2 separate regions of the Homo sapiens genome follow, and region 2 is linked to region 1. Evidence: fine-mapped expression QTL. Tissue or cell type: whole blood. Region 1 holds a variant in brackets; the other region holds the start of a gene. All regions are shown on one strand. Distances are from middle to middle.

Evidence for each region. PIP is the estimated chance that this variant, and not a neighbour inherited with it, causes the effect.
Region 2: it holds the start of CERKL, and the variant in region 1 is the best candidate, but not a certain one, in a credible set for the expression of CERKL in whole blood (INTERVAL, PIP 0.81).

The regions. Positions count from the first base shown.
Region 1 is chr2:181,447,051-181,449,816 of GRCh38, reverse strand. No RefSeq gene overlaps it. Among named protein-coding and RNA genes, the nearest start is that of ITGA4, 9.0 kb to the left of the region's middle. The variant G/A (reference allele first, on the strand shown) is at 1,298.
Region 2 is chr2:181,655,472-181,658,237 of GRCh38, reverse strand. CERKL (CERK like autophagy regulator) reads left to right here and starts at 1,133. Exons shown (of 13, transcript NM_201548.5): 1 at 1,133-1,469. The coding sequence starts at 1,232. RefSeq lists silencers at 1,046-1,275, 1,406-1,495.

The DNA of each region.
Region 1 (2,766 bases):
CATAGGCATGGGCAAGGACTTCATTTCTAAAACACCAAAAGCAATGGCAACAAAAGCCAAAATTGATAAATGGGATCTAATTAAACTAAAGAGCTTCTGCACAGCAAAAGAAACTACCATCAGAGTGAACAGGCAACCTACAGAATGGGAGAAAATTTTTGCAATCTACTCATCTGACAAAGGGCTAATATCCAGAATCTACAAAGAACTCAAACAAATTTACAAGAAAAAAACAACCCCATCAACAAGTGGGCAAAGGATATGAACAGACACTTCTCAAAAGAAGACATCTATGCAGCCAAAAGACAGATGAAAAAATGCTCATCATCACTGGCCATTAAAGAAATGCAAATCAACACCACAATGAGATACCATCTCACACCAATTAGAATGGCAATCATTAAAAAGTCAGGAAACAACAGGTGCTGGAGAGGATGTGGAGAAATAGGAACACTTTTACACTGTTGGTGGGACTGTAAACTGGTTCAACCATTGTGGAAGACAGTGTGGCAATTCCTCAAGGATCTAGAACTAGAAATACCATTTGACCCAGCCATCCCATTACTGGGTATATGCCCAAAGGACTATAAATCATGCTGCTATAAAGACACATGCACACGTATGTTTATTGCGGCACTATTCACAATAGCAAAGACTTGGAACCAACCCAAATGTCCATCAGTGATAGACTGGATTAAAAAAATGTGGCACATATACACCACGGAATACTATGCAGCCATAAAAAAGGATGAGTTCATGTCCTTTATAGGGACATGGATGAAGCTGGAAATCATCATTCTCAGCAAACTATCACAAGGACAAAAAACCAAACACCACATGTTCCTACTCATAGGTGGGAATTGAACAATGAGAACACTTGGACACAGAGAGGGGAGCATCACACACCGGGGCCTGTCATGGGGTGCAGGGAGGTGGGAAGGAGCATTAGGAGATATACCTAATGTAAATGATGAGTTAATGGATGCAGCACACCAACATGGTACATGTGTACATATGTAACAAACCTGCATGTTGTGCATATGTACCCTAGAACGTAAAGTATAATAATAAAAAAAAGTTTGATTTTTTTATATACATGTTGCAATATCTGTTAATCAATCAGCTATTTCATGAGTTATTTAAATATACCCTCAATTGTTTGACATGAAATAAATAAACAAATATCATGAGTCTCCAGTTTATGTCTCCAGCCTTGACCTTTCTTCAGAGTTCCGGGTTCATTTGTTCTACTGCCTACCAGACATCTCCACTTGGATGTATAGTGGGCATTGTGCGC[G/A]TAACATACCTAACACTGAGTTCTGGTTCCCTGACTTCTCATCTAAACTATTCTTCCACCCAATCTCTTTCTTTTCAAAACAACTGGGCACTCTATCTGACCAGTTGTTCAAGCCAGAAATTTGGAAAGTAATACCTCCCTCTAACTTAAACAAAGAATCCATCAGTCACAAGGTCCTATCAATTTGACCTCTAAAATATATCTCAAGCCCATCTTATGTGAATCTTCTTTTGCACAGCTACTACCATTTCACAAGATAATTTCATCTGGGCTATTTAAGAATCTGCTACGTGGTCTCCCTTTGTCATTCCCCCACCTCATCAAATTTCTGCACAGAAGCTAAAGTGAACTTTCAAGATTCTAAATGAATCAGGCAACTACTCCTTTGCTTAAATCCTTTAAATAGTTTTCCATCGCTTTCTTGTAGTACAAACCACACTCAACGTGGCCTAAAAGGACCCTATGATCTGGCTTCTGACTACAGCACCAGCCTTAGCATTGGTCACTCCCCCTGGATCACTTGGCTTTTGTCATATTGGCCTTTCTTAATTTCCTTAAGTGCATCAAGGTTTCTTTTATCCTCAAGGTCTTTACCATATTATTACCTCTTCTCGGACACATAGCCTCTGACTTTTCACATAATTCCTCTTTCTCTTTCTTCCATCTCAGCTTAAAGATGTCCTCACAGAGGACTTTCTGCCCATCCAATTTAAAATAGGTCACTATAATATTATCTGCCAGACAATCCTGTTCATTATCTCCAGAACTCTTTAATTTATAATCATATATTTTTTCATTATATCTTTCTCACTAGAATTTGAGAGTAGAAAACATCCTTTGTTTTGCTCCTGTTGTTTACCACCATATCTCTAGCACTTTATATGCTACCTGGCAAGTAGCAGGTGCTCTGTATTTTTTAAATGGCCTTTACATGATTTTGGCTTTTTACATCATTAATGTCATAAGCTGGAAATGTATAGGTTTATGTTCATTAATTATTACATGCAAAACAATACGCTAAGTCCTTTGGCAGATATGAAACTGTATAAAAAGTGAGTCCTAATCTCAGTTTATAATTTACAAAGGAAGATATGATATACCTTAGATAATATAATGTAGTCAAATTAAATATCATATACAATGAGGAGACAAAAGACAGTTGGTTGCTGATAAATGGTGTAGGCATAAAGGCAGTTTCAAGACCCAAACTTACATAAAGAGCAGGGCAGGGAAAATGAAAGAACTCGTAAGGCATTGGGGAAAAAACCTGATGTGTATTGTGTGGTGTTGGTACTAAAAGGAAGTAAAATATGACCGGCATTTTTAGACCTGGTGACAGAGACACTGGTAATATCATGAAAAACAAAACATAAAGCAACCAGATGGAAGAGTTGGAATGGGGAAGAACAGGGTGGGGTGGAGGGGTGCATGGTGTTGGGGGAGATGGAGAGTGTGTTTAGATAGTGCTC
Region 2 (2,766 bases), 210 kb before region 1:
CTCCTTCTTTTCAATATGATGATAATGATCTTGTTTAAAAAAAAAAAAAGCCTTCTGCTTTACTTCCCACTCTGCTCCTCTTCCCAGGGACTCACTTTCTTCCTGACTGCTTCCCCATTACAAGTACTCAGCTCCCTGTTTTATCACCCTGCTTAGAGCAGCCATTATCAGCCTTGGCTGAACATTGGAATTACCTGGGAACTTTTAAAAATCCGGAAGTCTGGGTCTCGCCTCCAGAGATTCCAGCTTAGTTGTCTTGAGCGTGGCCTGGACATTTGGGTTTTCAAAAGTTCCCTATGTAACTTTAATGTGCAACCACAATTGAGAATCACTAGCCTCCAGACTCTCTGTGTTATCAAAATTAATGAGCAGCTGATTTTAGAAATCTCAGTTATCAGGAGAAAAGGGTGAACCCCCCCAGGGCTCTTCTCCTTTTCCAGGTGACACTTCTTTATGGCAGTGCGTGAAAGTGAAGCCCTGCTGCTTGTAATCTCCCTCAAGGGAGTGCAAGATCCAGGCAAAGACAAGACTGCAGAGGCGCTACCTTGGGGGAAAGTAGGACCCTAAATACTTACACCTGGAGGCACTTACCTTTAATACTGAATTTGTCAGATGCAAATTTGTCTATGCAAACCAGGGCCTTATCTCTAGCTTCCCCTCAGGGGTTTTGGGAAGTGCGCTACTACTCTGAAACAGGGTTGTAAAGCGTCACCTGTGCTCTCCAGGGAACCCTCTGGAAAGGAGGTGGAAAAACAGAGGCTTCCACCCTTGCAACTCTAAGTGTGTTCCTTGGCCAGTGGGATCCATCACCTAGTATTTTCTTAGATATGTGGTATCTGGGGGCCAGTCCCACACCTATGCAATAAGAATCTCCATTTGAACAAGATGCCCAAGCGATTATATGCAAGTTTAAGATTGAGGAGGGCTGGTTTAACTCGAGGGTAACGAAAAGTACGAAATCGTACTTTACAGGAGAAGCTAGGCGGAGGGAGCCACTTATTCTTCCTCTTGCAGCTGGGTCTTTTTGTGGTGAGTGGCGAAGCGGCGAGGCTGGCAGGCCAGGGTGCTGGACTGGGTCAGGCGCGGCCCCGCCTCCCTCCTGGGTCCCTGCCCTGCGCGCCGTTGCTGTGGCAGCGCTGGACGCGGCTAGAGCTGGGGCTGCCGCGCCCTCCACCTCCTTCTCCAAAGGCCTCCCCGGACCCCTGGCTCGGGCCCAGCCTGCGACTCCGCCATGCCCTGGAGGAGGCGCAGGAACCGGGTGAGTGCCCTGGAGGGCGGCCGGGAGGAAGAGGCGCCCCCGGAGGCTGCCGCTGTGCCTCCGGCGCTGTTAACGTCCCCGCAGCAGACGGAGGCGGCGGCCGAGCGGATTCTGCTCCGGGGCATCTTCGAGATCGGGAGGGACAGTTGTGACGTGGTGCTGAGCGAGCGAGCACTGCGGTGGCGGCCCATTCAGCCCGAGCGCCCGGCGGGTGAGTGCCCGGCCCCAAGCGTCTTCGCCTCCCTCCGCGCTTCCTCCCTCTCCCCGGCCCAAGGCCTACACCCACGAGCTTTTGCTCCACCCTCCCCTTTTCTCGCCTCCCCTCCCCGTGCTCGCCTCACTGCCCGGACAGGTTACCGAGTCCCCAAGTCGCCGCCTCCTCCTTCCCAACTGGGAACTCACGCCTCTCGCCCCATCCCAGAACCCCCAGGGATTCTTTCGCTACCTAGCCTTTTCCCGCCTCCGAGACCTTCCCCGGGCAAACGTCACAAGCAGCTTTTGCTCAGAGTCTCAGCAGAAAATCTTGAGCCCCAAAGGGGAGGTAATTTACAAATGTGAGAAGGTCAACTACTCCTCCCCTCCAAGTTGAAAAAGTTTTAATCCATTAACTTTGATGGTACATTGAAACTATAAACATCTCACAGATTATGCCTACACAAGAGTTCTGAATCCAACTCTCATTTTGCTGACTTGAAAATGTAACTCCAGAGCTTTGGGAGTGTTTCTGGGTTTTTTTCTGCCCCTCACCTTCCTTGCCATTGTCTAGAATTAAGACTTCTTCAGGCTCGGTCTAGAAACTTTTGATTTTTAATATTGACCCTAGATTATTGGATCACAGTTTTGCGATGCTTAGTTACGTCAAGCGGTTTGCTTAACGTTTGCCTTTTATTGACTTAAAATTTTAGTTACCTAAAAAAGTTATAATGCTGTAGTTTACAACAAATACTTCGAGTCTATTTTCACGTCTTAGTCAAATAGCCTTATAGACTTAACAGATATTTTATAAAGACCATTTTGCAAGTCTTATAAGTAGACTTTCATATAGTCTTATTTCTAAGTCCAAACTCGAGAAATACTCCCCATTGTTGAATTAGCTTAGATGTGAGCGGTGAAAGACAGATGAAATGGGGGAGGAACTACATCAAGGTTACTCTACTTGCGAGGAGATGACTTGGGGGAGATGGAATTTGGTATTCAACCTCTTTTAGCTAAATACAAATTTATGAAATTAAAAAAATTGCCTTCCCCTGTTGGAAAACAAGACACAGTGTGGTATTTATGTTACAGAATAGACTCACTGTCTTAAAGTCTTGCTCAAAAGTCTAACAAAATGAAACCAACTAGCCAGGGATTCAGCACTGGTTGCGATTGTGAATTCTGCCTGTGCTGCATGTGCCATGCTCGCTCGCTTCACGAAAACAGTCTTTGACCTTAAAGTGTTTTCAGGTGTTTTAAAAACCAAGGTGTAGTATTTTCTTGAACCTTTTAAGTTAAAAGCTAGGGATATA